Linked DNA regions of Homo sapiens: region 2 is linked to region 1. A link means that fine-mapping ties the variant in region 1 to the expression of a gene that starts in the linked region. Tissue or cell type: aorta. Region 1 holds a variant in brackets; the other region holds the start of a gene. All regions are shown on one strand. Distances are between the middles of the regions.

Region 1 (5,932 bases):
CTCAAGGAAATAAAAGAGGATACAAACAAATGGAAGAACATTCCATGCTCATGGGTAGGAAGAATCAATATCATGAAAATGGCCATACTGCCCAAGGTAATTTACAGATTCAATGCCATCCCCATTAAGCTACCAATGCCTTTCTTCACAGAATTGGAAAAAACTACCTTAAAGTTCATATGGCCCCAAAAAAGAGCCCGCATCGCCAAGTCAATCCTGAGCTAAAAGAACAAAGCTGGAGGCATCATGCTACCTGACTTCAAACTATACTACAAGGCTACAGTAACCAAAACAGCATGGTACTGGTACCAAAACAGAGATATAGATCAATGGAACAGAACAGAGCCCTCAGAAATAATGCTGCATATCTACAACTATCTGGTCTTTGACAAACCTGAGAAAAACAAGCAATGGGGAAAGGATTCCCGATTTAATAAATGGTGCTGGGAAAACTGGCTAGCCATATGTAGAAAGCTGAAACTGGATCCCTTCCTTACACCTTATACAAAAATCAATTCAAGATGGATTAAAGACTTAAACGTTTGACCTAAAACCATAAAAACCCTAGAAGAAAACCTAGGCATTACCATTCAGGACATAGGCATGGGCAAGGACTTCATGTCTAAAACACCAAAAGCAATGGCAACAAAAGCCAAAATTGACAAATGGGATCTAATTAAACTAAAGAGCTTCTGCACAGCAAAAGAAACTACCATCAGAGTGAACAGGCAACCTACAAAATGGGAGAAAATTTTCGCAACCTACTCATCTGACAAAGGGCTAATATCCAGAATCTACAATGAATTCAAACAAATTTACAAGAAAAAAACAAACAACCCCATCAAAAAGTGGGCAAAGGACATGAACAGACACTTCTCAAAAGAAGACATTTATGCAGCCAAAAAACACATGAAAAAATGCTCACCATCGCTGGCCATCAAAGAAACGCAAATCAAAACCACAATGAGATACCATCTCACACCAGTTAGAATGGCAATCATTAAAAAGTCAGGAAACAACAGGTGCTGGAGAGGATGTGGAGAAATAGGAACACTTTTACACTGTTGGTGGGACTGTAAACTAGTTCAACCACTATGGAAGTCAGTGTGGTGATTCCTCAGGGATCTAGAACTAGAAATACCATTTGACCCAGCCATCCCATTACTGGGTATATACCCAAAGGACTATAAATCATGCTGCTATAAAGACACATGCACACGTATGTTTATTGCGGCATTATTCACAATAGCAAAGACTTGGAACCAACCCAAATGTCCAACAATGATAGACTGGATTAAGAAAATGTGGCACATATACACCATGGAATACTATGCAGCCATAAAAATGATGAGTTCATGTCCTTTGTAGGGACATGGATGAAATTGGAAATCATCATTCTCAGTAAACTATCGCAAGAACAAAAAACCAAACACCGCATATTCTCACTCCTAGGTGGGAATTGAACAATGAGAACACATGGACACAGGAAGGGAAACATCACACTCTGGGGACTGTTGTGGGTTGGGGGGAGGGGGGAGGGATAGCACTGGGAGATATACCTAATGCTAGATGACGAGTTAGTGGGTGCAGCACACCAGCATGGCACATGTATACATATGTAACTAACCTGCACATTGTGCACATGTACCCTAAAACTTAAAGTATAATAATAATAATAATAAACAAAAAAAAGAAAGTGAAAAAGTAATGCATTCAGTGTTTGTCTGGAAGGCAGGGAAGAGGGGTATGAAATTTTCAGCAAAGCATTGTAAAGGAGCTTTATGGAGTGATGAAAATATTCTATTTTCTGAATGCTATGATGTTTATATGGGTGGATCCATTCATAAAAGCTCATCAAATGGTTAAAAAAAAAAAAAAGACCTGGTTTGAAAATTCAAAATTGTTATCAGCAATATGACTGGGGAAAAAATGGTGACCTATAGATCATAAAGTCTGGATGAAATGTATCCCAAGGAATTAGCAAACCTACATGCTTCCTGAGCAGAAAAGAGTGAATAAGAGAGAAAAAAAATGAGAAAGGTTTTGAGCAAGAAATGTAGCTCCTGCAAAGGTTATATGGTTTGATTATTTTCTAGCTCTAGTGGTTGACCTATACTTACAGCCAAATAAGTCTGTTTAGAGATGAGTTTTGCAGTGGCTCATCAAATTATATCTTGTAGTCCAAAGTCATGTGTGGGTTTTGCCTCCTACTGACACCTTTTCCCCATCAGACTGAAGGACAAATTTTGTTCGTATTTCAGCATAATTTATTCTTCATTAGTCTAAGCTATGACTTGTTCATGATTAGATTCAATTTCAGTGTTTACAGGTTCATTTTCATAATATTTCCTGAGGGTTTATTATTTCCATTTGTAAAAATGCATTAAGTCCTCTAAGTCAGAGTAAGCTGATGCAATTTTCCAGGGAGACTTGCTCTGCCTCACACTAGGCCAGCAGCTTTGCAACAGCAGGTAGATGATGCTTTTATAGGACTTGTGAGGAGCCCTCCACCTTCTTAAGGGACTCCATTGCTTGTCTGAGTCTTGTATGGTATTGGATGTAGGACAGGGTTGGGAAGCGAAAGTGGGCTTTGGAAAAACGGTGCATCCTAGGTGTGGTTTTTGTGCATCGTGGATACCTGTGTTTTGGTCTTCTCAATGACCTCTTTGCCAGGGCACTGCCCCTCCTTAAGACCATCCATGTGGTTACCATCGGAACCGTCAGGTAAGTACCACATGAAACTCTCTCTCATGATGGCTGTGGGTGAGACCATATCTTATTCATGTTTCTGTCCTTGAATATGTATTAGTTCCAAAGATCTAGGTTTGGAAAAATGGTATAACTAGGATAAATTAGTCATTCATTTGTTCATTTAACATAAATTTTCTATGAGCATATTATGTGTTGGCTTCCCCGGTATGCTTTAAGGGTACAGCAGTTTTATTGTCCAGGTCTTGAGAGTCAGCCCACTGTTGCCTCCATGTGCATCTTCAAAATCAACAAGGAGCAACAGGATTAATTTCTGTCATTCATATGTCTATATTAATGTTTTAGAAGTGTCCTTGAAAGCATCTTTGGAGAAGCCGTGTGGATTTCCTCTGATAATGGACATGAAGGTATTCATTTTATTGATGGCTGAACAGGCCCAGAAAATTGCCTATAAACTTGCATCAGAACCAACACAAAGAATCTTTAAGATTCTTTCTTAAGTTCTTGACTGTACTATTATCTTTTAT[T/G]AATTAGTATTCTTTTGGTGTAAATTTTTTTAAAAAACGGATTGAAATTGACTTGACTACAAAAGGGAATGTACTGCTGTATACAACTCAAGTACCTAGGAATCCATCCGACTTCAAATATGCTTGCTCCAATGCTTCAGCAATACCACCAGGTTGTGGTTTATCTTCTCTCTGTATCTTCGCTCTGCTTCCTCTATGCTGACTCCATTTTCCAATAGGTCTCAGAGTCACCAATTGGCTCAATATGGCATCTAGGCTGCATCTTTTCTAAGCTTAAATCAAGCATAAAAATGGCCACCTGAAATACACTCAGTTGAAGTTATTCAGTCCACTCTGATCTCACTGACTGAAGTCAAGGGTCCACTGTCGAGCCAATTACTGTGACCTGCTGACTGGTGTAGGCATGTCCCTGCTCCTTCTGTGGGACTGGAGCAGACCTGACTCAAACAACGTGGAATGAGAATTGGGGAGCAGGCATCTCCAAATAACAAATGGGCCCATTGCCTCACAATGAGAATGGTTGTCGGGAAAGGAAAGAATATATGTTTACTATAGATACACTGACTTTTACCCAGGTTCAATATTTTAAAAAATTACCTTATAAAGGCAAAAATGATAAAGAACTAGCAGTTATATTCTGTTAATGTGATGTCAGAACCCACTTGGCTTATTGAGCTTTTTAACTGAGATCCATTTTGGATAGAGTGACTCATATAATGTGAGGTGGAGAACAACCTAAAACATGTCATATAAGAACAGTTGGAAGAAGTGGGAATGTTCAATCTGAGGGAGATTTTTAATACTTTGTTCCAGAGTTGGAGAGAGATAGCATTACATCATTTATTTGAAAGATCTTCAAGCCAAAGTAAAGACAGACTTGCTCTATGGGATTCAGGAGGCCGAGATTTCTAGTAATAAATAGCTGCCCAGTGAGGGAACACGAAGACTTAGTTAGAAATGTGTTTCCTATCACTGTAGCTGTCCAAGTATAGTTTTATCAGACAATCTGTCAAGGATGGTATAGACACATGCCAATCACTGGGTGAGTGACTATGCGAGGTAAACTTTTAATGCCCCTTTGATGCCTGAGATCCAATAGTTAACTGTGAGTTTAACATGAAGGACTCACATTGGTAAGAGGCAATTCTTTATACATTACCTAGCAGAAAGAAAATAAGCAGGTTGCTTAAGAAGGAACATGGGAGATGGAGCAGGTTGAGAAGAAAGCTTGCAGTTAGAATTTTGGCCTTGACATAACAAAGGGAAATAAATGAGACAAAATGGTAAACATAAGAAAGAAAAACTGAGTCGACTCTGTATTTTTGCAGTGACCTTTCAACATGCTGTTAACTGGCTTTCTTGTCCCACCCTGGATAATCATGAGAGTATAAAAACCTAGAGATTTATTTCAATGGCCCTTCTGCTTTTGTCTTGGAGCAATGCTAAAAAATGGCTATGTTTAAAATTGTCTTAAGAGGGCATTCTTCCATTTTCTTCCTTCATGCTCTTCAGGGCATTACAACTAAGGTTGAGGACTACCTTGCTGATATTTTAGTTCATTTTCCCTTAGGATTTCTCTCCCATATGAAGTAAACCTAAAACCTGGGCTTTTATTCTGATCTAGAGCCGAGGGATCACTGTTCTTTAAAGGTAGATCATCTTCCTTTGAATTTTGACAGCTGCTCCTCTCCACAATGCACCATCTTTTAAATTGCTAACTTCAACCATGCCCAAACTATCAGGGTGCACCACCATTTCACCAGCTGTCCTGGACCCTTCTGCCAACTTCTGGATTGTGTTTCCACATGGCCCTCTTGGATGTATGGTTGCTGGGCTATGCATTCCTCATCTGTAAAGCAGGTATAACACTACATATCCCCCAAGGAGAGGGAGGGGGTAACACTTTAAAATTATTTGTAAATTGTGAAATGGGTCACAGTTTTAAAAGAGAACTTCTAGTATTAGGAAGCCATTATCAAATGGAATGATTAAGGTCTGGCTTATTTCACCTAAAACCAAGCAGTTTCTGGGTTAATGTGTCACGGCCTATCCTGTGGATGAGCCCCTCCCAGCACCAGACTGTGTCCGTGACTGATGTCAGGAACTAGAAACAGCTGGGCATTGTGCACTTCACAGGTGGCTCCCTAGTAAGACCATTGTGCTTTGGAGAATGTTTCAGTTGCCATTCGCCATATAAATCTCTGCTTTCAAAAGTCTAGGACTTAACTTACCTCCTGAGCCTGGGATGCTTCCTTTCCACAAGTTTCTTCTAAAATCTTATTCCCATGCCTTTCAGAAACCTCTTTAGATCCTCCCTTCCCCCACCTACTTGTACAGAAACCTTCAGGTCTTCTGACATCAAAGGCAAGTTTCTTGGTCATTTTATAATACTCAGCATTATTTGTCTCTAAGTTAAGATACTTGCCTCTGATTTAAGATCTTGGAAGCCTTCCTTGCTAGATATTTAACATGTCAAGGGCAAGGACAGCTTTTCTTCGCCTCTGTATTTTCAGCACCTGACATGATTTATGACTCTGAAAACATATGGAGAAAGACAGAAAGAAACAGAGAGAAAGAGAAAAGAAAGAGAGGGAGAGAAAGAAAAGAAAAGAAAGGAAAAAAGAAGTTAGTTTTAAGGAAGGACATGGGAGGAAAGCCTGGAGATGGAATTTTGGTCTTGACGAAGTGGAATAGAT
Region 2 (4,511 bases), 520 kb before region 1:
TACATTTTAGATGTGGTGGGGAGAGGAACACTGGGCATGGAGAGGCGAGATCCACACCTGGCTCTTCACTATTTTGCTGTGTAATCTCAGAAAGCCATTTGACCACTCTGAACATTCCATTTTCTCATCTGGAAAAGGACAATAATCATATTGCCCAACTTAACCTTCCAGATTGCGAGGATGAAATGAAGAAGGGGGAGGCTATATCTGTGAGCATATATTTAACAGACTGGACAACTTTAGGGTCTTTTCATGGTTCCGTATTTCCCAAGAACAGGGTTAAGGAGCAGGCGGGCAGTCTCCTGAGAAATCAGATGAGTCATCCTGAAGCTCAATGCCCAAGGGAGTTTTCCTCCTAAAAAATAAGTGACCCCAGAACGAAGTGTTCATTCAGTAATATGACTATGCAACAGGCGCTGAGAAAACAAGATGAAAAGGACCTATAAGGGCTGCTCAGGAAGCTCAGTCTAGTGAGGATGAACGCTGTGCAAACAGAGAAGTGGGGGATGGAGCTAGGCCAGTGAGACCAGAGCTGTGGGAACATGAAGTGTGAACTTCAGGGCTGTCCGAGAATTTCATGTTGAGCAGCAACCAAAGAGGGTTATTCCAGGAAAAGAAGAACAGGCAAAGACTAGCATTTCAGGGGAACCATGAACACAAATCAGTTTCCCAAACTTCAGTCTCCTGAAGTCTGCTTTTACACTTTTTTTTTTTGGGGGGGGGGGGGCATGTCTTTGCAGCATGTACACCATTTTAAGTTGACTGATTTTTGAAAATGTAAACGAACAATTTAAAAACTTTATATGACTACTGTAAGTGAAAAACGTTATTTGTCATGAACAGAAAATGACCTTAGAACATGGACCACATCAACTCATTACTCATGAAATAAATAACTGTCAGGCTCAGTTTGTTTCTGAGGCTAACGGGGTGACCATTGACAGAGGTAAGGGAGGGAGATAATGACAGATAGGAATGGATGCTACGTAGAAAATATGAAGTGTCTTGGAGGGTTACTTTAGATGGGTTTCGGGGGGTGAGGGTTAGGGGCTGGAAGATATCATTTGAGCCGAGGACTACAGTGTTGGAGCTAAACACCTTAACATCAAAACCAAAAACAAAGTCATTAAATTTCCACCAGACTCAGCTGCCTGCCGAAGGCTGTGCCACAAGCAGAGAAATGAATGAGCGGGTGTTGGAGGCGCGCACATCCAGTGCAGACTTGTTGTGGGACAAAAAGAGACGAGAGAGGAGGAAGTCGCCTTGTCACGTGTGATCGTAGGCCGCTCAGTGCTCTGTAGCCCCTAAAACCCAGCCGGGTGGCCCAAAGGAAAGCACCCCACGCTTCGGGAAACGCCGCAGCTTTGAGCGGGATGCAGGTTGGGAGCACCCCGATGGACACATCAGTAAACTGAGAGCAAGAAAAGTTAATTCGCTGCCCCAAGTTAGGTAGTGAGAGGTAGAGCTGGGACACGAAGCGCACCCAGAACTCTCCTTGCACGCCCAGCTCGGCGGCCCCACATGCCGCGGGTCTAGGGTCGCGCTAGCAGAGGCCTGGCACAACCGCCAGACTCCTGACCCCGAGATCCGCGCTCCGGACCTCCCGAGGGCCCCTCCCTGGGCGTGGCTCAAAACGCGGCGCAGCGGAATCCGTGAAGTGGGATAAAAAGCACGGCCTCCGACTGCGAGCATGCGCGTTAGCTCGGCCCTGCCGGGCCGCGCTCGGCGCCGGGGGAGGGTCACCCGAAGCGGACGTCCGCTACGCAGGCGTCTGCGCCCCGTGGGGAGGAGGGCGAAGACTCCATCCGCCATGTTGGATGCCGCAGATTCGCCATAACCTCGCCGGCTCTTTTCTTAAAAAAATAAAAATAAAAAGCGAAGCGTCAGCAGGGCGCCCCGCCCCCTCGGTCGGCACGGGAGGGGGCCCGGAAGAGCCCGAGGCTTTTTTTTCCTCCGCGGTGGGGCGTTGCCATGGAGACGCGGGCGGCAGGTGAGCCGGGCTGGGGGTTGGGGTGAGACGGGGTGGGGGTGGGGCGCGGCGCGGCGCGCGGAAAGCCGTTTCGAGCGTCGAGTCGGGAAGCAGTGCGCCGGCCGCCGGCCGCCGGCCGCCGGCCGCGGAGGGATCCGGGTCTGGGGAGGAGAGCGAACGTAGTTGCGTTCTGCGGCTCACGTTCAGTCGCTGGGGTATCCCGCCGCAAAAAAAAAAAAAAAGCAAGGCGGGAGCGAGTGGGAGAGCATGCGCCCGGCCGTTTCCACGGCAATGGGTGGCGTTGGGGCGCGGGCCAGCGACGGAACGCAGTGGGCGCGAGGTTCGAATCCCGGCGATGCCAGCTCTTTGACTGGACCTTGGCGGGGCTTCCTTCTTGCCTGGCCTCGGATTCCTCCTTGGCGAAATGAGTACCTCCTGCAGGCTTCCCGGCCGCCGGCTGGACCTAATAGAGTGACAGATCTTCCACTTGACACCCGGTGCAAGTCATTTAACCTTGAGCTTGGGGTCCTTCACCTGTAATTACCACAAGCTTCCACATTTGGGCACTGACTTAACACGTTTTGCTGCTCAGCTCTCTTGAGAACTCTAATTTGTAGGTCATTTATTATGAGGAACAGAAGTTCAGAGAGGTCAACTTTACACAGTTTAAAAACGACAGAGCTGGGGCTTTAAAAATTAACTTCCTCCAACTTGGGCTAAAATCCAAACTCCTGCGTGCTCGCCTGACTTGTACCTCCATCTTCTTAGAATAGGGCTTGGCTCATGTAAGTGTTCACTATATACTTAGTGAATGAAAGAACGAACGCGCTAACTGATCACGCCTGCCCATCAGTCTGGCTTTTTTTGCTGGAGTCCAAGTGACCTTTTGGAGATGCCCCGCACAGCTGCCTCTCACCAGCTTTATCTTCCGAGCCTACCAGTTCATCTACTGAAACATCTGTAGTGTGTGTCCCCATGCTGAAGGAAGTAGCGTGTCCTACCTCTAACCCCCAGGGACACCTTTCCTGACTTTAGTTCAAATAACAGCTTTGCAAGGATCCCCTCTGCACGCCAGGCAGGGGTAAAGAGCAGTCCCAGTCGTAGTCCTGCCTCCACCTGCTGCGGTGCTAGATGTGGGAGAATGTGTCCTGGAGTGACAGAGTGGGCCCAGAGCCGAATATTGGGTCAGGAGACCCGAACTATATCAGGCGTGCTTTTTTTTAATTTAATTTTTTTAATTTTTTGGGACAGAGTCCCGCACTATCACTCAGGCCGGGGTGCAATGGTGCAATCTCGGGTCACTGCAACCTCTGCCTCCCGCCCTCAGGTAAACCTCCCGCCTCAGCCTGCCAAGTAGCTGTGACCACAGGTGCGCTGATTAGCTGTGGTGCCCAGCTGATTCAGGTGTGCTGTCTTAGGTTAGCCTAAAATGAGCACCGGAGAGACTTGCTCTCCAAATACAGGTTGAGCATCCCTAATCCAAAAATCCGAAATCGGAAATGCTCCAAAGTCTGAAACTTTGAGCACTGACATGAGGCCACAGTGGAAAATTTTCTATCTGACCTCGTGAAGGTTCTCAGCAGAAATGCAGTTCCATAGCCGGGCGCAGTAGCTCACGCCTGTAATCCCAGCACTCTGGGAGTCTGAGGCGGGAGGGTCCCTTGAGTCCAGGAGTTCAAGACCAGCCTGGGCAGTGTAGTGAAACCCCATCTCTATTTTTCTCAAAAAACAAAACAAAACAACAGTTGCACAACTGTAAAGACGATGCTGTTAACACTCAGAAAGAAATGCAGGCTGAACAGCAGACTTAAAGCCAGCCGTTGTTTATTGTTCTGTTGTTTAGCAGCTGATGCATGTGTTCTGGTGATGCTGCTGTGCCGCTTAGGTACCTTGAACACCTTGTTTTTCACTGTATTAATGGTGTGTCATATTTTTTACTGGTAAGGACTTATGTGTAAATAAATGTAAGAAAGTGATTGTCTTATTGGTAGCATAGAAATTCAGAGTCGGGAATGATGGCGATGCCAGACAACCACAGATTGCCCATATGTGTGGCTGAGATAGTGACACCTTTGCTTTCTGATGGTTCATTGTACACTTTGTTTCATGATCAAAATTAAAAATATTGTAAAATTACCTTCAGACTGTGTGTATAAGGTGCACATCAAACATAAATAAATTTCATGTTTAGACTTGGGTCCCATCCTCAGGTTATCTCACTATGTATATGCAAATATTCCAAAATCCAAAAACATCTGGAATTCTAAAACTTCTGGTCCCAAGCATTTTGGATATGGGATCCTGAAACTGTAGTTTATTTGGGAATAATAGGGGATTGCAATTTAGATACATGCGCTATGCTGGATCATAGGTACGTCCAAAGAAGTTGGGGCAAATGGAAACTTTTAAAGACCCAAAAGGGAAGTCCACCTAAGCGGTTTTGAAACAAAGACCATTGGTTTCAGAGGTTTATTGCAGGAGCTGGCATTAGTCCATTGGAGACAGGTGCACCAGGCAAGTGTCCTGTGCAAGTAACAGGCTC

The links. PIP is the estimated chance that this variant, and not a neighbour inherited with it, causes the effect.
Region 2: it holds the start of ZFAT, and the variant in region 1 is fine-mapped to the expression of ZFAT in aorta (GTEx, PIP 0.98).

What each region holds. Positions count from the first base shown.
Region 1 is chr8:134,185,337-134,191,268 of GRCh38, reverse strand. No RefSeq gene overlaps it. Among named protein-coding and RNA genes, the nearest start is that of LINC03024, 500 kb to the right of the region's middle. The variant T/G (reference allele first, on the strand shown) is at 3,237.
Region 2 is chr8:134,710,324-134,714,834 of GRCh38, reverse strand. ZFAT (zinc finger and AT-hook domain containing) reads left to right here and starts at 1,804. Exons shown (of 16, transcript NM_020863.4): 1 at 1,804-1,990. The coding sequence starts at 1,972. RefSeq lists an enhancer at 1,793-1,972.